Linked DNA regions of Homo sapiens. The protein of the gene in region 2 purifies or fractionates together with the protein of the main gene of each other region. This does not show direct contact. Each region holds a gene or a part of one and is shown on either strand. Other genes may lie near its edges. The genes, in order: TYMS and PKIG.

What was found.
Region 1: the proteins of PKIG (region 2) and TYMS purify together in Homo sapiens (affinity purification with mass spectrometry; 2 studies listed by BioGRID and IntAct, with this or other methods). This does not show direct contact.

What each region holds. Positions count from the first base shown.
Region 1 is NC_000018.10:649,227-664,983, reverse strand, and holds the start of TYMS (thymidylate synthase), read right to left. Parts: upstream 7,332-15,757; 5' UTR 7,242-7,331; coding exon 7,037-7,241; exon of another isoform or gene 6,693-7,036; intron 5,344-6,692; coding exon 5,270-5,343; intron 2,839-5,269; coding exon 2,664-2,838; intron 1,999-2,663; exon of another isoform or gene 1,979-1,998; coding exon of another isoform or gene 1-1,978. Other genes in the region: ENOSF1 (mitochondrial enolase superfamily member 1), read left to right, coding at 1-1,978; CLUL1 (clusterin-like protein 1), read right to left, coding at 15,083-15,086. UniProt on the Homo sapiens protein: Catalyzes the reductive methylation of 2'-deoxyuridine 5'-monophosphate (dUMP) to thymidine 5'-monophosphate (dTMP), using the cosubstrate, 5,10- methylenetetrahydrofolate (CH2H4folate) as a 1-carbon donor and reductant and contributes to the de novo mitochondrial thymidylate biosynthesis pathway.
Region 2 is NC_000020.11:44,573,087-44,588,841, reverse strand, and holds the start of PKIG (cAMP-dependent protein kinase inhibitor gamma), read right to left. Parts: upstream 6,264-15,755; 5' UTR 6,111-6,263; intron 3,743-6,110; exon of another isoform or gene 3,638-3,742; intron 1-3,637. UniProt on the Homo sapiens protein: Extremely potent competitive inhibitor of cAMP-dependent protein kinase activity, this protein interacts with the catalytic subunit of the enzyme after the cAMP-induced dissociation of its regulatory chains.

The DNA.
Region 1 (15,757 bases), on a different chromosome or scaffold from region 2:
AAAAGAGAATTTTAGACCAATATCCTTGATGAACATTGATGCAAAATTCCTCAATAAAATACTGGCAAACCGAATCCAGCAGCACATCAAAAAGCTTATCCACCATGATCATGTGGGCTTCATCCCTGGGATGCAAGGCTGGTTCAATATACACAAATCAATAAATGTAATCCAGCATATAAACAGATCCAAAGACAAAAACCACATGATTATCTCAATAGATGCAGAAAAGGCCTTTGACAAAATTCAACAACACATCATGCTAAAAACTCTCAATAAATTAGGTATTGATGGGACATATTTCAAAATAATAAGAGCTATCTATGACAAACCCACAGCCAATATCATACTGAATGGGCAAAAACTGGAAGCATTCCCTTTGAAAACTGGCACAAGACAGGGATGCCCTCTCTCACCACTCCTATTCAACATAGTGTTGGAAGTTCTGGCCAGGGCAATTAGGCAGGAGAAGGAAATAAAGGGTATTCAATTAGGAAAAGAGGAAGTCAAATTGTCCCTGTTTGCAGACGACATGATTGTATATCTAGAAAACCCCATTGTCTCAGCCCAAAATCTCCTTAAGCTGATAAGCAACTTCAGCAAAGTCTCAGGATATAAAATCAATCTGCAAAAATCACAAGCATTCTTATACACCAATAACAGACAAACAGAGAGCCAAATCATGAGTGAACTTCCACTCACAATTGCTTCAAAGAGAATAAAATACCTAGGAATCCACCTTAAAAGGGATGTGAAGGACCTCTTCAAGGAGAACTACAAACCACTGCTCAATGAAATAAAAGAGGATACAAAGAAATGGAAGACCATTCCATGCTCATGGGTAGGAAGAATCAATATCGTGAAAATGGCCATACTGCCCAAGGTAATTTATAGATTCAATGCCATCCCCATCAAGCTACCAATGACTTTCTTCACAGAATTGGAAAAAACTACTTTAAAGTTCATATGGAACCAAAAAAGAGCCCACATCGCCAAGTCAATCCTAAGCCAAAAGAACAAAGCTGGAGACATCACACTACCTGACTTCAAACTATACTACAAGGCTACAGTAACCAAAACAGTATGGTACTGGTACCAAAACAGACATATAGATCAATGGAACAGAACAGAGCCCTCAGAAATAACACCGCATATCTACAACTATCTGATCTTTGACAAACCTGAGAAAAACAAGCAATGGGGAAAGGATTCCCTATTTAATAAATGGTGCTGGGAAAACTGGCTAGCCATATGTAAAAAGCTGAAACTGGATCCCTTCCTTACACCTTATACAAAAATCAATTCAAGATGGATTAAAGACTTAAACGTTAGACCTAAAACCATAAAAACCCTAGAAGAAAACCTAGGCATTACCATTCAGGACATAGGCATGGGCAAGGACTTCATGTCTAAAACACCAAAAGCAATGGCAACAAAAGACAAAATTGACAAATGGGATCTAATTAAACTAAAGAGCTTCTGCACAGCAAAAGAAACTACCATCAGAGTGAACAGGCAACCCACAAAATGGGAGAAAATTTTTGCAACCTACTCATCTGACAAAGAGCTAATATCCAGAATCTACAATGAACTCAAACAAATTTATAAGAAAAAAACAAACAACCCCATCAAAAAGTGGGCGAAGGACATGAACAGACACTTCTCAAAAGAAGACATTTATGCAGCCAAAAAACACATGAAAAAATGCTCACCATCACTGGCCATCAGAGAAATGCAAATCAAAACCACAATGAGACACCATCTCACACCAGTTAGAATGGCAATCATTAAAAAGTCAGGAAACAACAGGTGCTGGAGAGGATGTGGAGAAATAGGAACACTTTTATACTGTTGGTGGGACTGTAAACTAGTTCAACCATTGTGGAAGTCAGTGTGGCGATTCCTCAGGGATCTAGAACTAGAAATACCATTTGACCCAGCCCTCCCATTACTGGGTATATACCCAAAGGACTATTAAATCATGCTGCTATAAAGACACATGCACACGTATGTTTATTGTGGCACTATTCACAATAGCAAAGACTTGGAACCAACCCAAATGTCCAACAATGATAGACTGGATTAAGAAAATGTGGCACATATACACCATGGAATACTATGCAGCCATAAAAAATGATGAGTTCATGTCCTTTGTAGGGACGTGGATGAAATTGGAAATCATCATTCTCAGTAAACTATCGCAAGAACAAAAAACCAAACACTGCATATTCTCACTCATAGGTGGGAATTGAACAACGAGAACATATGGACACAGGAAGGGGAACATCACACTCTGGGGACTGTTGTGGGGTGGGAGGAGGGGGGAGGGATAGCATTGGGAGATATACCTGATGCTAGATCATGAGTTAGTGGGTGCAGCGCACCAGCATGGCACATGTATACATATGTAACTAACCTGCACATTGTGCACATGTACCCTAAAACTTAAAGTATAATAATTAAAAAAAAAAAAAAAAAAGAGTGTGAAACGGCCTTCATGAGGCTTAATTGTGGCTTAACCTGGCACCACCCCTCACAAGGTCAAAGCTATACATCAGCTCCTGTGACATTGACTCATCCCCCAGACCTTATCTAAAACAACGGAGCAAACACATGCTAGGAAGGGCACCCGGGAAATGGAAGGCATTGTTCTATCTCCTCACCTGATTCCATATCTCTGTATTCTGCCCCAAAATGCCTCCACTGGAAGCCATAAACTGGGCCCAAGTCCCCTTCTTCTCTGGTGGAGAATCCCAGGCTGTCCAAAAAGTCTCGGGATCCATTGGCATCCCAGATTTTCACTCCCTTGGAAGACAGCTCTTTAGCATTTGTGGATCCCTGGAAGAGATGGGGAGAGCAGAGCAGGCATCCAGGTAAATCCTAAGCCATCTCAGTTGATCCCCCCGAGACACCACTTACAAGGGCCTCTGGCCCCTGCTGACTTGCTAGGAGGTGGGCACTTGACACCACCCATATGGAACCCATCCTTTTTTTTGTTTTTTGAGAGTTTCGCTCTTGTTGCCCAGGCTGGAGTGCAATGGCGCGATCGTGGCTCACGGCACCCTCCACCTCCCAGGTTCAAGCGATTCCCCTGCCTCAGCCTCCCGAGTAGCTGGGATTACAGGCATGCGCCACTACACCCAGCTAATTTTGTATTTTTAGTAGAGACAGTGTTTCTCCATGTTGGTCAGGCTGGCCTCGAACTCCTGACCTCAGGTGATCCGCCCACTTCGGCCTCCCGAAGTGCTGGGATTACAGGCGTGAGCCACCACACCCAGCTGCCCATCCTATCTTTAAGTAGGCTGGTCCCAGCCCAGATTCCTGAGGGCTTTAGGACAGTCTGATCCCTTCTTTGGAACCACCCTCCCAGATCTTTTCTTCCATTCCCCTCAACTAAGCTTTTTAGGCTAAACACCTCCAAGTGCTTTTAAGTATTCCACCGATCTGACAGTTTTATGTTTCTTAATGAAATGTGTTGTCTATATGTAATACCCCAAAATGAATTTAATGCCTACATGCAATCTGTTCAATGTATCTTCTACCTGGCATACAGGATATTCCTAATGATCAGACTAATCAGTATTTTACAGTGCAGGTGCCTCAACTCCTGTATTTGATCGAGTCACCAATGGAGTAACTCCAACTATCAAGGTGAGTCTGACATTCCTGGCAAGGATTCCTTAGAATCCTGAATTGAAGCATTAAGTTGAAACAGGGGAATGCATTTTATTTCTGAGTATCTTGCTTCCTCCCTTTCTATTGTTGAGTTTGTCCCGATTTTCTTTGATTGAGAAAGAATCAAAGAAATTTCCAACAAATCAAAGAAATTTCTCCAATTGAGAAATTTCCAACAAATCATTTCTCAATCTTTTACATATTGCTTCAAAAGTCTCTCCTTTTCATCCATTCAGACCAGGCTCTAGCCAGTTTAAGAATGTTGTCTTCTGAGGTTTCTGATGATATGTTTCAAATCCAAGGTTCATTGTTAGTCAAGATAGGCCAATACAGAACAAAATACCCCAAGAATACAGAGCTAAGGCAGACCTGGGGCTGGATCCAAATTGAAGCCCTTTCTAAAATGGGATAAGAGGGCTTGGGTCTGGCTTGCCCCAAGACCATACAAGCCATACCAAGTGCTCTATAGAAGGGATCCCAGCTTCTAGTATGGCCCAGACCTGAGCCCAGACCTCAGCCACCTTCCAAAAAGCACTGGTCAGAAAGAACATCGCTGGTTCTAGACCAGGACACGGAACACAGAGAAGCTTGGTCTGGGCTGCTGCCTGTCTTCACAGCACTCTGGCCCCGGCCTGAGGTACCTACTCAGCCCTCTGGAAGGGGTTCACCTTGTTACTGAAGAGACTCTTCTAGAATTTATATGAACATGGGAACACAGGTGGTATCTACATTTAGTGATCAATATATGTTGACTCCTACTATGTGGCAGGCTGTGTTTGAGGCCCTGGCGATACAACAGTGAACACGAGAAACAAATCCTCTGCCCTCATAAAGCTTACAGCACATTTCACTTTTACTACCTGCTGTCCCCCTTCTAACAGGGGAAGGGAAAGGCTGACATACATCAGATGGTGATGTTCGTCTATGGAGAAACACCAAGGAGGTTGGGGGAGAGTCACAGTTTTAAATCAGGAGGTCTAGGAAGGCTTGCCCGAGTGGAGTAGAGACTCAAAGGAAGAAGCCAAGTGTGGGGGAAGAAGGTTCCAGGGAGTGGGGATGTCCCGGTGTGCTCAAAAACTCACAAGAACAGCAGGGCTGGTGCAGAGAGCAGCAGCTAAGGTCAGAGCTGAAAAACGGACACCATAAGGACCGTGGCTCTTACTGAGTGAAATGGAGCCACTAAGGGCTTGAGGGTGAGGAATGATATGCTTTGACCTTTGGTGGTGTCTTTTTTTGTTTTTGACATGGGTTCTCCCTCTGTCGCCCAGGCTGGAGTACAGTGCCACGATCTCAGCTCACTACAACCTCCGCCTCGTGAGCAATTCTCATGCCTCAGCCTCCTGAGTAGCTAGGATTACAGACATGCACCAGCACACCTGGCTAATTTTTTGTGTTATTAGTAGAGACTGGGGTGTCGCCATGTTGGCCAGGCTGGTCTCAAATTCCTAACCTCAGGTGATCTGACTCAGCCTCCCAAAGTGGTGGGATTACAGGCGTGAGCCACCACACCTGGCTGCTTTGAGTTTTGAAAGGATCTCACTGGCTGCTGTGTTGAGAACAGACTACTGACTTCTAATAGCAGCGACTTCTTTACCTTGATAAACCACAGCAACTCCTCCAAAACACCCTTCCAGAACACACGTTTGGTTGTCAGCAGAGGGAATTCATCTGAAAAACAATTTGCCATACGGTTTCAAGATGGGAAGACAGATCATGCCATCCAACTTTCTTCAGGGAAGAAAACTGCCCTGGGACGTGAGGCCCTGGAGCATCCAGAAAGCCTAGACTCCCGCAAAGTGGGCCAGAGATCACGGTGGAGCTCCCAGGCTGCAAGTCCCATCAGTGGCCCGATTCAGGCTGAGACAGCACTTCTGTGCCCCGGTGACCAGTGGACACAGGAATTCCACACAGTGAGATGGTGGCGAGGGCAGGGATGAACATGTGGCAAAAGGGAGGAGCTATCATCCACTGCCCACTAGTGCTAATCCTGTCACAAAGGTGTGAAGACAACACCAAGCATGTGTCCCAGGAACAAAAAGGGAGGCATCAGAAGTGTCGAGCCACAGAGAAATGAAAGTGTAAAAACTTATCTTTAAATGCAGTCCTCGTTCATCCGCACTCGCTTGTGGTACAGTTTATATTCAGACAACAGAGAGATTTTTGCAAGCACCTGCTTTTATCAGAATTGCCTACTAAGCATTATTTTCTCCATTTTTAACATATAGGGAAGCTATATGAGAAGTAACTTGCTCAATGTCTAAGCAGAAAGGTGGGTTAAAAATGAGGTCTATGGCTCATCAAAGGCCCCTGGGCTTGGAGCTGCAGAAAAGTGGATCCCTCTCCTCAGACAAAACTCCCCACGCTGTCCCACGCCAATCAGCCACAGCAGCTGCTATGTATTCGTCTCTAGATGGGTCCGTGGGCCGGAGGGCTTTTCCGCTAGCTACAGTGAATCTGCTTCACCACGAATGGGTTTCCCCATTCAAAACCACCTCCACCCCTGTGTCAAGGCTGCGCTCCATTTATCTGAGCGGTCAAGGTCAGCCCCTGGCTCACACACCTTCGAGTCCCCTCCCCCGCGCAGCTGGCGCAGGATCCAGGACGGCAGGACGGTGTGGCCTTAGGGAGGGCCAACGGCTGCCTAACGTCCTGTGCCCACCCCGCCCCGCCCCACTGTCCCCTGAAAGCCTGGCGCCAATGACCCGCGAGACATTTTTTGCCTGGGGTGCTCCTGTCGGAAAGGAAAGAGGAAAGGACGACTAAGAACTTATACTCGAACTCCCGAATTTCTCTTTTCAAGGTTTAAGAGGAAAGCTGGTTCGTGGGGATTGGATGGGAGGCCACCAGGAAACCAAGTTCCCGCGCCAGCTTCAGTGCTCTCCTCTTCCCGCCGCCTTTGCCCCGCCCACATCACTTTCGCTCCAGTTTTTGAAAACGCTGCGAAGCGGAATGGTCCACAGGGGAAAACGGAGGAGGGGCCAAAGCCAGGACTTTGAGACCGGCGCGCGGTCAAGCCCAGGCAGCTCTCCCTAACCCTCCAGCACTGGGCAAACGCTGCCCGATGACGCCCGCCTCGGGGGCCACGGCATCACTGGGGCGACTGCGAGCCCGGCCGCGGAGCCGCTGGGACGCGGCTTACCTCCCGGCTGTCGCTGCTGTGTGTGTTGCCCGCGCCAGTCACGTCCCTAATGGGACCCTCCGTTTCGGCGTCTGTAAGGCGAGGAGGACGATGCGTCCCCTCCCTCGCAGGATTGAGGTTAGGACTAAACGGGGTCCGCAGCGCCCGGCAGCTCCCGAGCGCTCTCCCCAGCCGCGCCTCCCTCCTTCCCGCCACCCGTCCCGCAGGGGCCCGCGGCGTCACCTCTCAGGCTGTAGCGCGCCTGCATGCCGAATACCGACAGGGTGCCGGTGCCCGTGCGGTCGTCCTTCCTGACGCCGCAGCGGAGGATGTGTTGGATCTGCCCCAGGTACTGCAGCTCCCCGTGCGGCGGACGCGGCTCGGCGTCCCGCTCCTGTGCGGCGGGGGGCAAGGGCCGGCGCGGCAGCTCCGAGCCGGCCACAGGCATGGCGCGGCGGGCGGGGGACGGAGGCAGGCGAAGTGGCGCGGCGGGACGGAGGCAGGCCAAGTGGCGCGGCGGGACGGAGGCAGGCCAAGTGGCGCGGTGGCAGGACCCCTTCCGCGCGCCTTTTCCCGCGGCCGTCCCGCGCTCCGCCTCTTCCTGCTCGGCGGGGTCGCGGCGGCCCCCGCTCTAGAGAGCGTGCGCCAGGGGGAAACGCAGGAGCCACGGGTGTGGCACAGAACGGAGCCCAGGGCCACAGCTGAGAGTCTTAGGAAACCCGGGAACCTGGATGCAGGTGCGGTGGCTGGGAAGGACTGCGCCCTTTGGGAACCGTCTGGTCGACCGCGCCTTCTCTAAGCCAGCAGCACAGTTCCCACGTTTTCCTGCGGTCTTGTCAACAAAACTGCTGTTTGAGATCTGTTTCCTACAACTAATAAGGGATTTGCATTTCCATTTCTTCGTTCTCACTGAAGCAACCGAAGCAAGTGGTATAATGCAGCTTTTCTACTTGATTAAAAACCGCCAGGGCGCTGGACGCGGTGGCTCACGCCTGTAATCCTAGTACTTTGGGGGGCCGAGGCGGGTGGATCACCTGAGGTCAGGAGTTCAAGACCAGCCTGGACAACATGGTGAAACCCCCGTCTCTACTAAAAGTACAAAAATTAGCTGGGCGTGGTGGCTACTTGGGAGGCTGAGGCAGAAGAATTGCTTGAACCTGGGAGGCAGAGGTTGCAGTGAGCCAAGATCCGACCATTGTACTCCAGCCTGGGCGACAGAGCAAGACTGTCCCAAAAAAAAAAAAAAAAAAAAAAAAAAGACCGCCAGGGCTTTTCCGAGGTTTTTTGTTTGAGCCCTGGCGGTCTTTTTTTTTTTTTTTTGAGACAGAGTCTCGCTCTCTCACCCAGGCTGGAGTGCAATGGTGCGATCTCGGCTCACTGCAACCTCCGCCTCCTGGGTTCAAGCAATTCTGCTGCCTCAGCCTCTCGCGTAGCTGGGACTACAGGCGCCGCCACCACGCCCGGCTAATTTTTTTTTTTCATGTTTAGTAGAGACGGGGTTTCGCCATGTTAGCCAGGCTGGTCTCAAACTCCTGACCTCAGGTGATCCACCCACATTGGCCTCCCAAAGTGCTGGGATTACAGGCGTGAGCCACCGCACTCGGCCCCAAGTTTTTAATAGACCACATTTCCCAGTTTTACTGAATTGTTTATAACATTAACACTGGGGAGTGGGAACTGTTGATGAAAAGAGTTAAACTCTGTAAAATATCTGAAGAAATTTATTCTGAGCCAAATATGAGTGACCAATGGCCGGTGATAGAGCCCTCAGCAGATCCTGAGAACATGTCCCCAAGGTGGTTGGGCTACAACTTGATTTTTTATACATTTGGTTGAAAGAATTGTTATCTAAAGATCTGGAATCAATAGAGGGCTGGGCGCGGTGGCTCACGCCTGTAATCCCAGCACTTGGGAGGTCGAGGCGGGCAGATCACGAGGTCAGGAGATTGAGACCATCCTGGCCAACATAGTGAAACCCTCTCTACTGAAAATACAAAAATTAGTGGGGCGAGGTGGCACACGCCTGTAACCCCAGGTACTCAGGAGGCTGAGGTAGGAGAATCGCTTGAACCCAGGAGGCGGAGGTTGCTTGCAGTAGCTGAGAAAGCGCCACTGCACTCCAGTCTGGGTGACAGAGCCGTATGGGGAAAAAAAAAAAAAAGATTTGAATGAATAGAAAGGAATATCTGGGTTAAGATAAGGGGTTGTGGAGACCATGGATTCATCATGCAGATTAAACCTCCAGGTAGCAGGCTTTAGAGAGATAGATTGTAAATGTTTCTTGTCAGACTTAAAGAGTGTGTTCTACCTGTCTTGAGGCCTGTGTTGATGTCAATGCTGGTCAGCTGTGCCTAAATTCCAAACGGAGGAGGGAATAATGAGGCATGTCTGGCTCCCCTTCCCATCATGGCCTGAACTAGTTTTTGTGGTTAAATTTGGAATGCCTTTGACCCAGAGGAGTGGTCTTTTCAGATGGTTCTGGGCGTAGAATTTTATTTTTGGTTTACAGAACGATTTTATAATGAGTTTAAAATGCACTGATACATGTGTTGTACTTGCAAGCATCCTTTTACCTCAACGGTTGATTGAGTACAGAGGTGCTCTCAGCATTTTGGGTGGGACTTTTCTTAGCTGGACCGGTTTGTTCTGCACATTGCAGGGCTTTAGCAGGACTGTGGAAAGCCAACCATATGTTGGCATTCCCCCACCCCACACCAGCTGAAAACTGTCCCTACACGTTTCCCTACACGTTTCCGAGCACGAGGAAGATCCCAGGCTGAAAATATTCCAGATTATCCAGATGCACGTTATCTGTGTTTAATTTCCTTGTGTTATTCTTTTTCCTTTTTTTTTTTTTTTTTTTTTTTTGAGGTGGAATCTTGCTCTGTCCCTCAGGCTGCAGTGCAGTGGTGCTCAGCTCACTGCAAACTCCGCTGCATGGGTTCAAGCAATTCTGCCTCAGCCTCCCAAGTAGCTGGAACTATAGGCGCCTGCCACCATGCCCAGCTAATTTTTTTTTCTTTTTTTTTTTTTTTGCATTTTTAGGAGAGACAGGGTTTCACCATGTTGGTCAGGCTTGTCTCAGACTTCTGATCTGAAGTGATCTGCCCACCTCGGCCTCCCAAAGTGCTGGGATTAAAGGCGTGAGCCACCATGCCCAGCCTTACTTGTGTTATTTTTTAAAAACCTGATACATAATAATTGTGAGGTAGACAGGGCTTGACTCTGGAGGCAGGGCTCTGACATGGGACCAAATTGAGGAGTAGTCAAAACAAGGATGGGGCAGAAGTAGTTTTCCATAAGACGTGCCCACCAGTGTGCCATGTCAGTTTACGATTGTCATGGCAACATCCAGAGCTTACTGCCCCTTTCCATGGCAGTGAGCCGACAACCGGAAGTTACCACCCTTTTTCTAGACATTTCTGCATAATCTGCCCCTTAATTTGCATGTAATTGAAAGTAGGTTATAAATATCACTGCAGACCTGCCTTTAAGCTACTGCTGTCAGCACACTGCCTATAGGGTAGCTCTGCTCTACAGGGGCACTCAGGGAGCTGTTGCCATATCAGTAGAGCTTTTCTTCTACCAGGTAGCTCTTAAATTCTTTCCTGAGCAAAACCAAGAACCCTCCTGAGCTAAGCCCAATTCTGGGCTCACCTGCCCTGCATCAGTTGCACATCCTTGTGTGTTTTTTTTCTTTCTTTCTTTTTTTCTTTTCGACGGAGTCTCGCTCTGTCACCCAGGCTGGAGTGCAGTGGCAGAATCTCAGCTCACTGCAACCTCTGCCTCCCAGGCTCAAGCAATTCTCCTGCCTCAGCCTCCCGAGTAACTGGGATTACAGGCACCCATCACCATGCCCAGCTAGTTTTTGTATTTTTAGTAGAGATGGAGGTTCACCATGTTAGCCAGGCTGGTCTCGAACTCCTCACCTGAAGTAATCTGCCTGCCTCGAGCCTCCCAAAGTGCTGGGATACAGGCGTGAGCCACTGCACCCGGCCCCTTGTGTTATTTTGAGGCTGGTTTATTTGTTTCACCCAAATACCAGCTAAATCACATCTCAAGACTAGGCTCCTCTGCCCACATGGAGCTTCCACTTCTGCTGCCTTCCTTGAGTATCTTGGCTTGATAGTAAAGACAGAATGGTTCTTTTCAAAGTAGTTACTCCATAAATGTTGGTTAGAATGAATGGTTCTCTCAGACAAATTTCATTCATTCATTCATTAACACACATTTATATCATGGTGCCTTCCTCATGTCTACAAACAGCAAGACAGACAAGGCCCTTTTCTTCATAGAACTGATATTCTGGCAGTGACAAACACTACAAAAGTAACCAAACAAGACATCTGCAGATAGTGACAAGTGTGATGATAGTAAATTAATGGGTATAGCACTAAACAGTGATTGTGTAGAGGGTGCTTTAGATCTGATCACCAGGAGGCCTCATTGAGGAAGTCACATTTGAGCTGAGACCTGAATACTGGGAAGAAACCAGCAGGGGAAGATCTGGGGAAAGAACATTCCAATCAGCAGGTGCATTTATACCAGTAGGTGCCACAGTGCTTGCATCTATAAAAACATCCCCCAATAGGGACGGTCATGATGCTTAATCCTGTCTTGTTCTAGGAAGAAATAATAATTATTAGTGGATACGTTAACTTATTGGAGTATAAAAAGCTCTTCCTTCTCATTAAGAGATATATTTGTTTAAAATTTTACTTTTATATGTTTAGTAGTCATAGAAATTTGTAGTATATTTATGTTATTTTGATCAATTATGTACAAAAAATAATTATAATGATCACCCAATCTAGAATAAATATTTCATACCTAGAATTTGATGTCACAGGATGTTCTTAATTTTTAAAATTTAAAAATGATCAAAATTGTGTTGATCAACAAAAGATATTTAAGCATAAAAATATACTACATTAGGATAAAATTCTTAGGAATGTAGATTGAAATAAGAGTTTAGGGAGAAAATGTAATGAGATAAAATTTCTCATTGTTAAAGAAAAACTTGTATATTTGTTTAAATGGATGATGCTGGGTCAAATTGCGATGATATTTAGATTCCATTTGGTACATTTTAAAGAGGGATGACCTGCTAATCTTTACGATGCGTGGGAAAATAACAATTTGCTATTCTTTCAACTTATATAGAAAAATGACATGCAAGTATGTTGCAACTTTTTCAGTTTCCTTTGAGGAAGTATGAGAGCAAAAATATTTGAAAATTATTGGTCTAGAAAAACCTTCCCTTTACAAATTCAAACATGTAGGTAAACTTAGGTAAAGGAAAGCAGAAAATTAACGTTTTTGAGAGTCAATTATGAATCAGTTACTTGATAATATTATTTTTTATTGTTGCTACTACCATCTATCAATGAGTATCATGAGCCACACATTATGGATTAATGTAGTTCTCACAACTACTCTATAAAACACAAACTTTTACAGTAGTTTCCCCTTATCCACGGGGGATATGTTCCAAGACCCCCAGGGGATGTCTGAAACTGCAGATAGTACTGAACCTTATACATACCATGTTTTTTTCCTATACCTACATACCTATGATAAAGTTGAATTCATAAATTAGTCACAGGTAGAGATGAACAACAATAACTAATAATAAAATAGAACAATTATAACAGTATGCCGGCATCCCTATCTTGTGCTTTGGGGCCATAATTAAGTAAAGTAAGGGTTCCTTGAACACAGAAAGGGTTCCTAAGAGAACAATTTGGGGAATGTAGTCATCGTGGAGCCACTGGACAAAGGGAGCATTCACCTCCGGAGAGGAAGGGGTCAGGGACAGCATGAGATTTAATGGCATGCAATTGAAAACTTACTATGTATTTCTGGAATTTTCCACATAATATTTTAAAACCGCAGTTGATCTCGGGTAACTGAAAGCTTGGAAAGCAAAACCACAGATTAGTGGGGCACTAGTGTACTTTAATTACCTTATAGATGACACTGAGATTAAGGATCTTGGCCAAAGTGACACATCTGGAGAATATAGTAGCCAGGATGAAAATCCAGTTCAGCCTGCATGCAAAATCTTCTTTCCATTTAGCTGTTTTGAGCCTCACTTCCCCCACTCTCTTTCCACTCTATAAGCTTTTGATAGCTCATTGGATAGAAAATAGGTTCTCTTAATCACTTATTTTTTTGTCACCTTCACTAACAAATATTTAAAATCTATGGTTGAATAGACTGTATTTGAGATTTATTGCACACCGAAGAACCCAGGATTCTATTAGTTCCCTGCCAGGAGCAGTGGCTCATGCCTGTAATTACAGCACTTTTGGAGGCTGAGGCGGGCAGATTGCTTGAGCCTGGGAGTTTGAGACCAGCCTGGACAACATGGAGAAACCCCATCTCTACTAAAAAAATACAAAAATAGACGGGCATGGTAGTACCTGTAGTCCCAGCTACTCAGGAGGCTGAGGTGGGAGGATCACCTGAGCCAAGGAGGTCAGGCTTCAGTGAGCCCAGATCATGCCACTGCACTCCAGCCTGGGCAATAGAGTAAGACCCTGTCTCAAAAAAAAAATAACATAATTCTCATTTTTTATAGCCTTCAGTTATGATTTAGAAAAGGTTTATCTTCATTTGGAGTTAATTATATTCAATTGGCTGCCTCTGAACTCTAACTTTCTCTGACAAGCCTTTCTGTCAGATAGATCAAGACTGGGTGAAAAGTTCTTTAAAAGTTCAGAGTTCTCTCTCTTTCATTACGTTTCTTTTATATATTTATTTATTTATTTATTTATTAAAAAAGAGTCTCGCTCTGTTGCCCAGGCTGGAGTACAGTGGCACAATCTTGGCTCAGTGCAACCTCTGCCTCCCAGGTTCAAGCAATTCTCCCATCTCAGCCTCCTGAGTAGCTGGGATTACAGGCATGCGCCACCACACCTGGCCAATTTTTGTATTTTTAGTAGATACAGGTTTTCACCATGTTGGCCAGGCTGGTTTCGAACTCCTGTCCTCAGGTAATCCACCCACCTTGGCCTCCCAAAGTGCTGGGATTACAGGTGTGAGGCACCGTGCCTGGCCTACATTTCTTTTTATAATTTGTAATACTGACTGTATATACTCTCATTGTAATCCTTAGTGATATATACTGACACATAGCTCTCCTATTATTGTGTTGCACCAAGGTCCAAATTATGAGGTTGAGCGTCAGCCAGGAAAATCTTGTGTTTTCCATAAAATACGTATGTCAAAAGACAGCGCTGTTGTGCCAATTTTAAAAAGTAACTATGTAGCACACCCACGTTCAAAACAGCATTATTCACAATAGCCAAAAGATGGAAGCAACCCAAGTGTCCATCAATGGCTGAATGGATAAGCAAAACTAGGTAAATACATGCAAGAATATTAGCCTAAAAAAGGAAGTTCTGAGACATGCAACAACATGGATGAACCTTGAAAACATGGCACTAAGTGAAATAAACCAGTCACAAAAGGACACTGTGATTGCACCACTGCACTCCAGCCTGGGCGACAGAGTGAGACCCTGTCTTAGAAAACAAAAAACAAAACAAAACAAAGCAAAAGACAAATACTGTATGATTCCACCTACATGCAGTACCTAGAGTAGTCAAATTCATAGAAAGTACAGTCGTGGTTGCTACGGGCTGGGGGATGGGGAAAAGGGAAGTGAGTGCTTAACGAGTACAGAGTTTCAGTTTAGGAAGATAAAAAGGTTCTGAAGATGGACGGTGGTGATGGTTGCACAGCAACGTGAGTGTACTTAATGCCACAAATTGTGCACTTTAAAATGGTTAAAATGGTAAATTAATGCCATGTGTATTTTACCACAATTTAAAAAAAGACTATACAGAACCTATTGGTCTTTACAAAACAAAGCAATGAATCTTAGATTTTTTTCCAAAAAAGTCAATTATATATATTTTAAGTGCAAAAGCAAACTAAAGGAAGAACATTTTGTTAATTAGGAAGTGACATGTTTGTAGATGTGATAGAACATAGACACCTAGGTGATTTAGTATTTATTCAATATACAAAGAACTACTAATGTACCATGAAATGTAATACATATTACGTTTGATTTTTTAAGGAGGAATTTTCATTTTAACTCAATTTGAGTATTAATAGCTAAGCCATTCAACATAAGTAAACTAAGAGTACTTCATAGTATATAGCTAACATACTTTCCTGCAACTGTGTTTATTGCATTATCCTTTTTTATTTCAGGATTTCCAGGTCCCAGATGAAGAGATAATTCTACTTACTGGATATAGGATGCATTAGATCTTCTTACCTTAAAAAAAAAAAAAAAGGCAGCAATGATCAAAATACTAATAAATTACTCACAGACTCAGTGTATTTTTTCTTGGAGTAAAAGTCCAGGATGGGTAATAGAATACCTGCTGTTGGCTTTTGGAAAAATTGGTACTGTATGTAGCAAAATAATGTGAAACCCATATGCATGGATATTCTTAACAATTTGAAGAAATCGTCACAGCTTTCCTGGGTTGTTGAGCCTCTAAGATGGTCTTTTCCTCTGATGTGATAATAAAGTGTTTATTCTGAACTCTACATGCACGTAGTGTTTGGTCAGTAAACTTCTGTTACTCATGACTCATTACATTAGTCAACAAATTTTGTATATTTGCCTTTCACGATGATGATGATGGTAAGAGCCCATCTACAAAAGCTTATTAAAGACTCAGGATGTGCAAGATATTGTGTTACAGCCTGTGACTGTAGATCCCAGGGCCGGCAGCTATGAAACTTGGGGATGGGAAATAAAACACATTGCAAACCAATCAGGAACGTCCAGGCACTTAGGATGCTAGATAACTAGAAGAAAGTTCCAGAAGAGGGTTCTAAATATATATTTCACCTTATAAAATTGGAATTCATGTTTCAGTGAGCTGTATACCTGCAGCTAGGGCACCTAGCAAATGTTTACGTGATTGAAAATGCCAG
Region 2 (15,755 bases):
ATATTTTCAAACAAAGACTGGGCAAGTTTACCATTCACAGACCCCAAGAATATTCTCCAATAGAAAGGAAACTGAATACAGAAAATAAGTGAGATTTTTAGAATCAATAATGAGCAAAGGAAGGAATAATCCAGCACCCTTCTTTACTCCCTCTCCCTCCTTTACTCTTGGTATAAGTGACTCCATTTCTTTTTTTTTTTTTGAAAGTCTCACTCTGTCACCCAGGCTGGAGTGCAATGGCACAATCTCAGCTCACTGCAACCTCTGCCTCCCAAGTTTAAGCAATTCTTCCGCCTCAGCCTCCCAAGTAGCTGGGACTGCAGGTGCGTGCCACCGCGCCCGGCTAATTTTTGTATTTTTTTAGTACAGACGGGGTTTCACCATGTTGGCCAGGCTGATCTTGAAATACTGACCTCAGGTGATCCACTCGCCTTGGCCTCCCAAAGTGTTGGGATTACAGGCATGAGCCACCGCGCCCAGCCCTCTTCTCAGTTTGAATACCACCTTTTCAAGGAAGACCCCAGCCACACTCTCCTCTTTCACTCCCCCTGCTTATTGACTTCTTAACGCCACCATTTGTGCTTGTAAACTTCATGCAGGTAAAGGCCATGCCTGTTATATTTAACATCATCCACCTATCACCTTGCCCAGTGCCTGGCGGATATTAGGTTCTCAACAAATATTGGCTAAATACATGAAAAATTTATTGAAGGCTCAGCTCAAATGCTACTGCTCCTCCAATCTCTTAGGCTTTCTACAGGACTCTGTCCCCATCTTGGGGCACATTTTCACAATGTGTTCATGTTATCTGAGTCTTTTTTTCCTATCCGGCCATGAGCAACCTCAAAGTCTTATTTACCTCGACATTCCCCACCGCACCTTGCATAATGCCTAACACATAAAGGGTTCTTAGCAGTAGATGAATCTACACACACGTCCAGGAAAGTATAAATGATGGCCGCAGGCTCTAACCAATTGCAGATAGTAGTGATTGGAGCCCACAACACAAGCACCTTTGAGATATGCAAACAAACATGAGACTTTGCCCAGGGAGAAATTAAAATTAGAGCTAAACTTGAAATACAGCGGTATGTGGGTGGGGGGATTGGGAGACAGGCCCTTATTCAAAAACAGAGAAGTGAAATCACTGAGTGATGATTTATTTTAAGTGTGTTTTTCTGTACTATCTAGCTTTTCTTCCCTTGAACATATTCTAATTTTGCAATCAGAAAAAAAAAATCCACAATAAATGTTATAAAAACAAACCAACGGAAAATCAGTGGTGATTTTAGACTACAAAAGTCACCCGTCCCTCTGTTTCCTTACTACAACTTTGGACTTCAGATTCAGGGCCCTCTCAGGTGGGGCCCATACATTTTGTAAGGAAGTGTTCTTTCCACCCCTCTGAAGCCACGGGGGATAGGAAGGTGCCAGAAATGAGTGCTTCAGCAGGGGCAGCTCTCAGTTGCTCCCTAATGCAAATGCTGGCAAAGCTCCCAGAGCCAGGAATTGTAGGGAGAGAGCAGAAGGAATCAACCCAGCGCAAGATCAGGACCTCCACAATATGCTGATCCAGTGTCTGGTGTTTTGTAGCACTTGTGCATATTTCTTTTGCAGTACTTTTCACGTGCCATTAAAATTATTCACTCCTCTGTCTATCTTCCCTTGTTGCACAGAGAATTCCACAAGACCAGAGGCAGTGTCTTTACCCTGGTCCTCTAGTTCAGTGCTTAGTACTAACAGGTCCTCAATGTACATTTATGGAATGTTAAAGACTACACTGATAAAGTACTAAAACAGTAACTGACCTAGGTTCCTGGGACATAGTAAGAATACACCAAATACTTTCTTCGGTGCCATGAAGGGCCATTATTCAGTTCTGAAGAGTCAAGCTAAAGCCTGTAATTTCTTGAAACATTAAAGAGACTTCTTTTTGGAAATGCAGCTTCCTCCAGTAAGAGCGGATACATTATGTGTTCTAATCTGCAATTCATAATCAGTCAGCATAGGAGCCCACGGCAACTTCCAAAGAAACCACTCTTTGAAGGAGCAGTACTCCAAGTTTTCCTAAGACATTTCTGAAGGATTTCCAGGAGGTAGTGAGCTCAGCCTAGGGTCATGATTAATAACCTGTTTCCCAGAACTTTAGATTTTCCACCTCAGTCTCCACTTAGGAATTGCTTCTGGCCCCTCGTGAAAGCATTTGGCAGAGTTAATTGGGCCAGTTCAGCTTCTTGTCTGTCACAGCCAGCACCTGTTACCAGCTTCTTCCTTAAGTGGCTGGGCTAGGGTCCTCTGGTCCCAAGAGAATAGCACCCACTTCTGCTTTTGGCCTCAGCACTGGCTGGCTGATTTGAGGTTCAGCATCACTTGACTGGGTGACAGGAAATAATGCTGAGGCTTGGTTTGAAGAGCCAACATGGCAGCTCCAGGGTTCATCACAGGGGTTTCAAAATGATGAGTTCAAAGATAACTTCTGGTTCCTCATGCAAATGCCATCCTATGTCTGAGGGGGCAGATGCCTGTGTACATTGGCTGACATTCTCTTTCTGGAAATTGAGAGCAGCTAATCCTAAGCATGTATTTTTGTACTAACTAAGTGCTTTATGAGCCCTATCTCATTTCATCCGCATGGCACCCCTTTGAGGTCAGTATGACTGTGACCCCCCACTTGACAGAAAGAGAAGTAGGTTCTATAAAGTGAGGTGATCAGTCCAGGATCTCCCAGCTAGGAGGCGGTGAAAGCAGAGCTCTTACCTGCTATCCCCTTCCAATTTCTCACTGAACTCGAGAGCTCTCACCTGCTGTCCCTTTCCAATTTCTCACTGAACTCAAGAGCTCTCACCTGCTATCTCTTTCCAATTTGTCACTGAACTCTAGAGCTCTTACCTGCTATTCCTTTCCAATTTCTCACTGAACTCGAGAGCTCTTACCTGCTACCCCTTTCCAATTTCTCACTGCCCTCTAGATTGTCTAAATCGAAAGAAACGGTAGACACCAACCAGATGCAGGGCTGCAAATTCCCACAGGGGCCAGGGGCCAGGCAGGAGACTAGAGGGCACAGGGGAATGCGCAAATGGTAATGAACTGGAGAACACACCTGCCTAAAGGCATTCAAATTAAAAACAAAACACCACTCTGACTTCTGACTAGAGTTCACTTGTCATCATTTAACAGATGGAGCAACTGAGATCCAGGGAGGTGATATGAAAAAGGCACTGCAGTATGGTGAAATATTCAAGGGCTTCGGGGACAACCAGTTCTCATTGGGAACTCAAGCTCTAGCCCCTGCCAGCTGTGAGACTCTGGGCAATCCACTGCACCTCTCTGTGCCTTTCTTAGGTGTAAAATGGAGATGATCTCTGCCTCACATCATTGCTGTGAAGATTAAGAGAAGTCAGCATATGCAAGATGCCCAGCCCTGTGTGTGACATTTATTTCAGGAAGATACCAAAGCCAAATGAGATCTCTGGACACATCTTTTCCACAACCTACCTCCACTCCCAAGATGCCCTAAACTCACTGCCGGGAGTGACTGAGGTGGGAGAGATCAGCAAACACACACTGATAACAGGAGCAACTTTGACACACAAAACAAGAACTGAAAGCCACCCTCATCTGGTACATGAAGGCCTACCTAGTTGAGGAGTGTGAGGCATTCCACATTTCCACTCTCCACTTCCTGGCAGGGACCACAAAGTCTAGGTACCTTCCTTCCAGAACATCACCTCCTCACCACCACCTTAGGAAAAAGGATGCCTTTTTTGATTACCCCAAATCTCAAGATCCCAGCGGGGCTGGGATGAAGCAGAGGATGCCCTGGCCTTCCCACTGCCCATGCCCATGGGTGGGTCCATGGCAGCAACAGTCCACCTTCATGGGATGAAATGCTGGGGAAGACTGCAGCTTTAGAAGTGCCAAGAGACCCCATCTCTACTAAAAATACAAAAATTAGCTGGGCGTGGTGGCAGGCGCCTGTAATCCCAGCTATTCGAGGGGCTGAGGCAGGAGAATCCCTTGAACAAAAACGGGAGGTGGAAGCTGCAGTGAGCCAAGACTGCACCATTGCACTCCAGCCTGGGAGACAGAGTGAGACTCCGTCTCAAAAAAAAAAAAAAAGAAGTGCCAAGGGCCTTTGAGAACCCTCTTATTAACTAGGACCTTAATTCAAACAAATAGTTTCTAAATACCACAACTTCCTGAGGATTAGGGTCTCTGATGCCCTTAAAGAAAACAAAACAAACAAACAAAAACAAAACAAAACAAAGCAAAAACCTTAATTTGTCAAGACCCGGCACCTTGGAAACTCAAAATTCAAGATCTGACGTCTTTTGCTTTTTTTTTTTTTTTTTTGCACTCTGGCTGTGGCTATCCTTCCCTTGTGGCAGGAGAGGGTGGCTCTATGTTAAATGATGAAAGAGGGGCAAATAGAGGGATTTTCCCCCTTCTTCTCCCTCTTTCTTGCCAAATGAGGAACTAGGATGGCGGGCTTTAAGTTTAAATTAAGTTGTGTCTCCTTTGTACCTATGTGCCAGGCTTTCTACTAGGCAGTGGGGCATAGTGATGGGCTAGACAGACACGCAGAGAAGGTGCAGATGGTCTAGTGGAGACATGGGGAATTGAAGTTATGCCAGTAATTATGTAAATACAGTTTAGTTCAGGATAATATGAAAACATATAAGTAGATGGTTGTCCTCAGTCAATGGGGTTAGGGAATAATACTGACCATCTAGTGCTCTGTAAAGGGTTGAGCATAACATAGGGCCTAGTGCTTAAGAGATACTCAATAATGCCAATTCCTTCTTTCCTCTCTCCCCAAGTGTATGTGCTAGTGTATGCGTGTGCACATACAGTTACCACTGAGACTTTTTCTTTCTCTTTCTTCAAGAACACCTAATCTGAAAAAGACCCATAAAAACTCAGAAGTAACTTAATGTTGCCTGTTTTATGTCTTCTTTTAACTGTCCTACAGGCACCCGTTTTTAGCTACTCTGGGAAACTGAAAACCTAGGGTCCTTTGCTCCTAAAGCCATAAGGGCCCAATACAAAGGGAAAAGAAATATGGACAGTTCATTTCATACTGAATTTGGAAATACAGAGATCATCTAGTTTTGTCCCCTCATTAGGTACAAATAAAGAAACAAGACCCAGAGAGTGTGAAACACTTGCCCAAGGTGACAGTTTCCTTGGGTGACCCTTCTAATATATGGTAGCTTTTTGTTGAAGCTGAAATCTTCCCGTTAGCTGTAACTTTTCAAATATACTTAACCTGCTAAGAGGGGACACCTCCCCTGTTAGCACACTGCAAGCCATCTCAAGCCACCTAGGAATCCTCCTCAGTTCAGGGACCCACCAAGTAAGGGACCTGGGTACAGCAAGGGCCCCCTCTTTCCCTCTCTACAGAGTAGCTTGCTTAGTTTCAAACCCTGAAAACAGATACCAACAAATAAAATGCCTAAAGGCTTACATGTCCTGTTTATATTCCAGGCATAAACAGCAAATTTTTAAAAGGAAGCAATAAAAAGATCGCAAACCCAAGGTTAAAGATTTCCAACCCCTTTCCATCTTGGAGTTTTCCACACAGCTGCTGCAGCACTGGGTTTATATGTGGTAAATTCATGGAGTCTGACCATATCTGTAACTGAAATTTAACACAACAACCATGTTCCTGAGGGGGAAGATAATAGGGAATTTTCACTACTTTCGGAGACTTTTCTTTCTAGAATGTTTAAAAATTATTATACCACCTTTGTAATCAGAAAAAAAGAAAGGGTTTTACAAACACGAATTTCTTAGGGAAGATTTATTTCTTCACCTATATTTGGAGCAAGGAGCTGCTTTTAAAGCTCTGAATACTCTGTCAAAGTTCTTTGAGTAAAAATGAAACAGCATCTGAATGGAGCCCATTTGTGAGACTGGAGGCTCCGACTAGCCTTAGGCAGTTTCAGACAAGGCCATAATTTTCAGAGCAAGCTCACATATATCATTATATAAAAATAGACATTTTGTGGCCAACAGGCTGGAAAGCAAGCTCTCCAGAGAGCTCTGCCTCCAAGCTCTGCTTCTCCCTGGGGGTGTTGGGCAGGGGAGGAGAGTAAAGTTCTACTTACAAGACCAAAGTTTCCTCAAAATCCAGTGGTCCTCAGTCAGAAGCGGAGGCAGAATTTAAGAAACCAGGATTCAAGGTTAGCAGTCCAGACCTGTGGTGCGGGCAGGATTCTCACTTTACCCTCCTCTCTGTCTCTTCCCCGTGTCTCCTAAATGAAAAGCACTTTGAGGTTTTAGTGGGTGTTTCCCATGTCTCGGGCCAAGTAAGTCCCCATTTGTTGTAATCCAATGCTCAGCCTGATGATGTCAACCACACAACTCACTCACTCAGTTTCCACCTCTCTGTCCACAGGAGAGATCCATTTCCTTTGGACAATGAGCCAGGGGGCTGTAACTGCATCCCAGGCCACCACGCTTGCCTAATATCCTTCCTTCAATTTTCAACCCTGCAGCTTTAGTGACAAAAGGCTTCCTATCCACTCACTGAGCCAGGGTTCCTGGGTAAATTCCTTTGCTTCTTAGTGGGTTGTCTGCTTTCCTGTGTGTTTAATTCCTTTCTTTGGTATATAATATACTAGTTAGGGTGGAGATCTTCACCCCACCCCACACCCATCTCTTTCTTCCTGCCCAATTTTCCAAGTTGTTTCATTTCTCCCAGGTCTCCTAGGTACATGCTGGGCACAGTACATGAGTTTGTCCTTCATGTAGGGGAGGTGATGTGTGCCCCCGGGGAAGGCTTGGAAACAGCACTGGTGTGTCCCCTGGGAAACTGGGTTCCAGTCTTGGTCAGGCCTTCAACTGAATGAATGACCTCAAGCAAGTCACATCCCTCTCTGGACCTCAGTTTCCCTATCAACAAAATGCTGGCTTTGGTGCTTTCCACTTCTGAGATTCAATGAGTAAAAATCAGTGACTGGGGAACTTATAAACAAATGCATTATAGAGCATTTTACTACAAGCTACCCAACTACATGCTTGAGGGAAGGAAGAACCCTGGAGAAGTCAGAGGCCACTGCCCAAGATGCCAGGCTCAGCTGGGCACCTTTAACCCCCTTTATGAAGGAGATGAACAGATTCTCTGGGAGTAAAACCAAAAGAATTCACTGAACAAGTCCTTAGGGACATGAAAAGCAGCAGCATAAACTACAAGATAAGACAAACAAGTAACAGGCTATAAGTGTCCTTAGGGACCAACATGGAACAGCAGTGGTTACGAGAGATCATTTCTTGCATTTGGAGAGTGCTTGATGGTAAAGACAAAGAACATCTCTCTACTTTCGTGTACAATGGGGAGCGAGTGACATGCATAGTGGTTAGGAACATCATTTGGGAGCCACAGATGTGGATCTGAGTCCTGTCTGACTTAATTTCTCTGAACTTCAGTTTTTTTAACTGTCAAGTGGGATACTAGTGCCTCTGTTTTAGGATTGTGAGAATTAAAAAACACATGTAAGGAAACTGAAAGTATTTGGTACATACTAAGTATTGAATAAATGTTTGCTCTCGTTGTACATAATCTCATTTGATTCTCATAACATCCTTAGGAGAATCAGATAAGTGCTATGAGGCTACATTATTAATCTCTCCTTCCTGGATAAGAAGACATATACAGAGAAGTTAGGTGACATGCCCAAGGTCACACAGCTCAAAACGAAAGGGACAGAATTAGAAATGAAGCCTCAACTCCTAACTAGGTCAGCACACATGCCACACACATGCCAATGCCAATGCCATTTCTCAAAGTGGTTGCCGCAGCCAGCCTGGGAAAGGAAACACTCAGGCCACTAGGTCAGAGAGGCTGCTTTCCTTGCTTTGCTACCCAAATCCTGTGTGGCCTGAAGCAAGACTGGGCTTCAACTAACTCCCTCAAAAGGAGCAGATCTGATCTGTTTCAATGCCACTTTGATGGTGATGGGAAGGTAGGACCGGAGCTTTACTGGGAAAGCGGCTCTCTATAGGTAAGGAAGAGGCTGTGGTAATTTGTGGTTTAACAAGAATTTTTATTAGTTCTCAGAAAACACAGATGCTTATCAGAAAACATCCAAGAAAACAGGCTATATTAGGAGGGAGTTTGTCAATCTGAAGGCTTTTCAACAATGTGACAATGTGACGTAGGACTGCTGTGGAATAAAAACCACACCAGCCTGGCCGGGCGCGGTGGCTCACACCTGTAATCCTAGCACTTTGGGAGGCCGAGGTGGGTGGATTGCCTGAGCTCAGGAGTTTGAGACCAGCTTGGGCAACACGGTGAAACTCCATCTCTACTAAAATACAAAAAAAATTAGTCAGGCGTGGTGGCGTGTTCCTGTAGTCCCAGCTACTTGGGAGGCTGAGACAGAAGAATTGCTTGAACCCAGGAGATGGAGGTTGCAGTGAGCCGAGATTGCACCACTGCACTCCAGCTTGGGCGACAGTGAGACTCTGTCTTTAAAAAAAAAACAAAAAACAAAAAACAAAACAAAACAAAAAAACACCAGCCTGGTAACCCACAGAGAGCAGCCGTTCACAGCTCAGAGAGATGTGGGCTTCCTTCTGGTCCCTAGACCTTCTTGCTGTGCTTTGGTTTCCCAGTGTAAAATGAGAAGAATAACAGCCTTACTCTCCAAGGTTCTTGTGTGGGTTATGTGCCTGGCACATACTATACATTGAAAAATATTTGAATACTTCTTGTCTAATTCTGACCATTTCATCATCCTTTGCCCTAATGGTGATGTGACAATGAAAGAAAGTCAGAGATTGGTCGGGAAGTCAAAAGGGTCCTGTATTTCTCCAGAATGTCACGATGAGTAATGAACAAAAGCCCACCCAGAGCTGTAAGGCCTGTTCTCAGCAGCAACACTCAGTTTGGAGGGACTGGAGGTCAGGGCTATTGTTTGGCTGAGCCTTTATTCCAGAAGACTGAGTAGGTGTCAGGAAATGAGGCTGGGCTCTTGAAGATGGGTGCTTTGAATCATGTTTTGTTACTTGAACAAAAATAATAGTAAGGAGCCCATTCATAAAAACAACATCATTTTCTTCAACAACATGTACTCTGTATCACTTCCCTTGTGAACGGAATAATTCTACGTCTGTGACAGAATCCCGGAAGACAGAACCATAGCAACACTGGCACATTCATTTCTTCTTATAACTGACAATACTGGACACACTTATGTGGGCTGGGGCCAAGCTGTGCACTGAGCACTCTATGAACACCACTTCATGTCATCCTCACAATAATCGGGTGCAGGAGACATTATTAATATTCACATCTTACAGCTGTAGCAACAGATGCATGGTGAGCCGACCAACCTGCTCAAAGGCTCACGGGAGCAAGGGGCAGAGCCTGCACTCTAACTAGGGACCATGTGGTGCCAGTCCTGAATCCACAACCCCCTTGCACTACCACCTCTTAAAGGGCTTCCCTTCAGGAAACTTGGCTGTTTTTCACAGACAGCAGCATCAGCTCCATTTGAGGATGAAGGAAACTTTGGCTGTTTAATTCCACCTTTTACCCCCAGTTTAGAAGGGGTCTCTCCTTCCTCTGAATTTCCTTAGTATGCTCTGTTTCTCTCTTAAGAAACATACCCTTTTCTCTGATGACACATATTTAGTTGGGGGCAGGTCTTTTTTCTCTGCCAGAATCCTAACTTTTTAAGGAAAAGATCTGTGTCTAATATAGCAGCATTTTGTACATATTATGAGATACTTATTAAAATAAGGAAATCCATAAACAAACCCCAAAACTATTATTGTATATTTACCATATGCCAGGTAATATTCTGTTTATTTTATTTATTTATGTTGTAGAGACGGGGGTCTCACCATACGCCCAGGCTGGTTTTGAACTCCTGAGCTCAAGTGATCTGCCTGCCTTGGCCTCCCAAAGTGTTGGGATTACAGGTGTGAGCCACCGTGCCTGGTTGTATTCTAACTGCTTTATATAAATTACCTCATTTAACCCCATAAGGATCTCTATGAGGTAGGTATAATTATTATCCCTGCTTGACACATGAGAAAATCACAGGCACAGATTGATTAATTTGTTACGCAGTGTTAGTCCGTTTGCACTGCTATAAAGGAATACCTGAGGCTGAATAATTTATGATGAAAAGAGGTTTATTTGGCTCACAGTTCTGCAGACTGTATAAGAAGCATGGCACTAGCATCTGCTTCTGGTGAGGCCTTAGGAAGCTTTTAGACATGGTAGAGGGAAAGGAGAGCCGGAATGTTGCATGGCAAGATGGAGAGCAAGTGTGAGAGGGAGAAGTGCCAGGTTCTTTTTAAACAACCAGGGCCAGGCACAGTGGCTGACGCCTGTAATCCCAGCACTTTGGGAGGCCAAGGCAGGCAGATCACCTGAGGTCAGGAGTTCAAGACAGCCTGGCCAACATGGTGAAACACCGTCTCTACTAAAAATACAAAAATTAGCTGGGCATGGTGGTGCACACATGTAGTCCCTTGCATTTTTTTTTTTTTTTTTTTTGAGATGGAGTCTCAGGCTGGAGTACAGTGGTGCAATCTCGGCTCACTGCAAGCTCCGCCTCCCAGGTTCACGCCATTCTCCTGCCTCAGCCTCCCGAGTAACTGGGACTACAGGCGCCCACCACCATGCCCGGCTAATTTTTTTGTATGCTTAGTAGAGATGGGGTTTCACCGTGTTAACCAGGATGGTCTCGATCTCCCGACCTCGTGATCCGCCCACCTTGGCCTCCCAAAGTGCTGGGATTACAGGCATGAGCCACCATGCCCGGCCAAAATAATTTTTTTTAATTAAAAAATAACCAGTTCTCACTTGAACTAACCGAACAAGAACTCACTCATTACAGCAGGGAGGGGATCACGCCATTCATGAGAGATCTGTACGCATAACCCACACACCTCCCACCAGGGCCCACTTCCAACACTGGGGTTCACATTTCAACATGACATCCAACAGCTATCCACCAATATAGTTAGACATCCAAACTATATCAGCTAGCAACTGACGGATATCTGTTGAAGGAGTATATGAATAAAGAAATTCTGGCCACCACTACCCACTTTCTAGTCCACACAGCTGCTGTACAGTGCAATCGCTCATCACCCATCAAAGGCAGGTTTCAGCTGTCATACCATTTCCAACTCACTTATTCACTGTGCCATGCAGTTAGAAGGTCCATGCTTTTTCTAGACAATTAATTGAGAAGTATATTGATTGAGATTTACGAATAAAAGTAGATTTTGTTTTCTTCCAATTATAATCATAATTGCTTATTGTAAAAAGATAAGAAAATACAGAAGAACAGGAAAAAAGAAAGGAGAACAATACATCGTCTCACCACAATCCTGGTGTAAGGCCCCAGAGAAGGAACCACACTTACACTTAAAACAATGTTCTTGGTCAAGCACGGTGGCTGACGCTTGTAATCCCAGCACTTTGGGAGGCTGAGGCGAGCAGGTCACTTGAGGTCAGGAGTTCGAGACCAGCCTGGCCAACATGGTGAAACCCTGTCTCTACTAAAAAAAACACAAAAAAATTAGCTGGGCGTGGTGGTGCACACCTGTAGTCCCAGCTACTCAGGAGGCTCCCAGCTACTCGGGAGGCTGAGGCAGGAGAATTGCTTGAACCTGGGAGGCAGAGGTTGCAGTGAGATGAGATCATGCCACAGCATTCCAGCCTGGGTGACAGAATGATAATCTGTCTCAAAAAAAAAACCACACACACATACACACAATGTTTTGAAATCAGAAACTTAAGTCATTTTTGGGGGATGGGGAATCAAACCCACAAAAGATGACTAAGACATTGCTCAACGTATTTTTTTGGTTTTGGAGTACACGTGGCTGCTTTTTCTTCAGGGTTCGATGTCCTGAGGATCCACTTTGTGGTCCCCTTTGGACTGCTGATTTGGTGTGTCTGAAGGAGAGCCAGAAGGAGAAGAGAAGCCTGACCCCAGTGATTATGTGGCTAGAAACTGGATAGGTTCGCAGGATATCACACTGTCCCCTCCCTGCCTTTTTTCAAACCACTTCCCACCAGCTTGAGATAAGTTTCCAACTACAGCTGTTTTGGGAGAGATGGACCTTCACTTAAACAGTGACCTTAACTTTAAACAGTCTTGGACTCATTGATTTTTGCAGCTGAAAGGAGCATGTGGTCTCCTCATTTTAGGGGTGAGGAATGCCAGATCCAGAGAAGGCAAGGGACTATCCTGAGGTAGTACAGCCTGGTGCTCCAACAGGAGAAGGTTTGAGGCTCTCACTTGCTACTCTCTATTGGTCTCAGACTCTCACTTGCTACTGCACTTTGACATACAAATTTGAAGGGCTCTTCCCTCTTATTTTGGTTAACTCCTACTCAGCCATCAGATTTCAGATTAAATATCACTTCCCTAGGGCGCCCTTTTCTCTGAGCCACGTTAGCTCCCCCTGCTGTACTGGTCTCATGGTACTCCTATGTCTCTTCTTATAACCCTTAACATATTTATAAGTACACGTTCCATGTGTTTCCCCACCAGACTGTAAGCTCCACAAAGTCAACAGTATGTCTCCTTGGTTCACTGAATACATCTATCCCAAGTGCCTAGAAGAGTGCCTGGCATAAAATAGGAAACTCAATAAATATTTTCTAAACACACACACACACACACACACACACACACACACACACACACTCTACTTAGTCCAGTCTATGGTAAAACATTAACATACTTTTTGTAAAAAGCACCACGTCTTCTGAACTACAAATTGGGCCTTTTTGCTGAAGGAAGGATCATTAGAGAACAAGGGATTTCATTTCAAATAATTTCCGGAAGATAGAAAAAGTTCAGAGAGGTATGACAACAGAAGCTGAAGTTTGGAGCACAAGGACAAGAAAGCACCATTGGAAATGAGAGACAAGGAATGGTGTGGGACCCCAGGGAGGCTCTGAACCTGAAGACAGCAGGCGTCGAGAAGATTCAGAAGGGCCAAAAAATTAAGGGATCCACTGAAGGTCCTGTGCCAGCCAGCTCCTCTATCCCATACCTGCAGCACACAGAGGGCCCAAAAGCTCTGCAGAACCACAGCCAAAGACAGGAGGCCTCTTTAAATAAATTGAATGAACTGCCTAGGATTGATCGAGGGCTTCTAGTAAGAGACTGGCCTCCTTATGCTAACACGTGAAGGGCCCTCAGTCTAACTGCTGCTCCTGCTCATGTGCCCTAAAGCATCTTCCACTTAGTACCTTAGTACCCTTCCAGTACCCAGCAGCTTCCCAGGCAGGGCAGAGGCCTATGGGACAAACAGATGAACTGAGACCTATCCCCTTAAAGAAGTCTTTTATTATTGATTGTGAATGGCCAAATAAAGCATGACAGGATGTCTGATCAAAACCAGCTGCATGACAGGAGTTTGAGACCAGCCTGGCCAACATGGCAAAACCCCATCTCTACTAAAAATACAAAAATTGGCTGGGCGTGGTGGCAGGTGCCTGTAATCTCAGCTACTCCGGAGGCAGAGGCAGGAGCATCGTTTGAACCCAGGATGCAGAAGTTGCAGTGAGCCGAGATCATGCCATTGCACTCCAGCGTGGGTGACGGCCAGCCTCCGTCTCAAAAATAAAAATACAAAAATTAGCCAGGCATGGTGGCGCATGCCTGTAATCCCAGCTACTTGGGAGGCTGAGGCAGGAGAACTACTTGAACCTTGGGAGGTGGAGGTTGCAGTGAGCTGAGATGGTGCCACTGCACTCCAGCCTGGGCAATAGAGCGAGACTGTCTCAAAAACAAACAAAAAACTGATGAGTCAAGAAAAAGCAGTATGGTAATGTGAGGTCCTTGTTTGGATCTGACTAGAACTAAAAAAATAACTTATGAGTTAAATGGAGACCACTGCTAATAATAAAGGATTATTAATTATTTTATGTGTGATAGTGTGGTTATATTTTTAAAAGGAGTCCTTATTCTCTTAAAAGTACATGCTAGGCTGGGCACGGTAGCTCACGCCTGTAATCTCAACACTTTGGGAGGCCAAGGCAGGTAGATCACCTGAGGTCAGGAGTTCGAGACCAGCCTAATATGGTGAAACCCTGTCTCTACTAAAAATAAAAAAATTAGCTGGGCATGGTGGCGTGTGCCTGTAGTCCCACCTGCCTGGGAGGCTGAGACAGGAGAACTGCTTGAACCAGGGAGGTGGAGGTAGCAGTGAGCCAAGATCGTACCACTGCACTCCAGCCTGGGTGACAGGCGACATTGCAAAAACAAAAACAAAAACAAAAACAAAAACAAAAAAAACATGCTGAAGTAATTACTGATAAAATGATGTCTAGAATTTACTCCAAAATAATCTAGTGGCAGGGGAAAATGGCTACCAGCACAGATGAAACAAAACTGGTCATGGGTTTTTGATTTTTGAAGCCGGGTAATGGGTGGTACATGAGGATTCATTATACTATTCTTTCTAGTTTTGTACATGTTTCAAAATTTCTGTAATACAGTTAAAAAAAACCATATCTCGATAAGCATATTATTTAGATATAGAGAGATAAATGCTAGATCAAACGCCTAAAAGGATCAAAAGTGTATGCCCTTGGGAGCAGGATAGGAGGAAGGGTAAAGAAAGGGTGGGGGCAGGGAACAGATGGTTTTTATTACAAATCTTTTATGATATTTGACCTTAAAAAGACTAAGGCAAACTATGTGCATGTACCTTTCTGACAAAAACAAAATTCATTTAAAAAAGGAAATGGGAGTAACATTATTTAGAGAAATAGAAGTAACCACCAAAAGAAGTAAAAGCAGAAAAATAAAATGGCTGCCTCAGGGTGAGGGGTAAGCAGGAGACAGATGCCTTTCTAGACTCAGAGACTTTTTAAAAAGTCATATTCATGTATTACTTGGATTTTTTAAAGTTAGCTATTATTATCAGTTGCTACTATCAGTTACTAGCAGGGCCTTTTGCTAATCTCTACATCTATAAACTGAATACTTCCTTAGGTTTAGAATCCTAAATCACCCAGAGTGAATATATCCACATTAAGTGTAATAATAACAATTATTGCTATTCAACTATTGTTTGCCATTTGTCAGTGCTTTACATATGTTATTTCTAATCCTTCTAACACTCCTGCAAGGCAAGTATAGATGTTCCCATTTTACAGATGAAAAGGTTGAGGCTGAGAGACATTAGCCACTTGCTTGAGGTCACAGTGTGGGCGAGGCCTGTGAGACTCAAACACCAAGCTCCTTCCATTACCCTACTTCTCCTTTGCATTCCATTTGTTCGGTATAGTCCAGAAAGTACCTTTACATAAATTTTCTCATCAACCCCAAGAAACAGGAGGGACATGACTATCTTTACTTGACAAATGAAGAAATCAAAGCTAGGAAAAGTTACGTAACTTGCGCAAGAATCCAGGCTCCTGATCCTTAATCTAGTACTCCTTCTACCATTCCTTATGTCCTCTCAACAACAAAATGTTAAATTAGTCATAATCTCCTCATAGGCATTTGACATAAGAGTCACTGCACATGAATGCAGCAATGCAGCTAAAGCAGGAATTTTAAAGAGAGAGAGAGGGGGAGACATTTTTTCCAAAGGAAATATACTAATAAACTATGGACTGTCCTCAGTTGCTCTAATGACAGCATGTTGCTGGAGTCCTCAAAGGGACTCTTGAAATGTCAGCAGCCTGCCTGCCTGGCACAGAGCAGATGAGTTGCTGGCACAGGCAGCCTGCAGCAGTTCTGACAACCAGTGCCACTCTA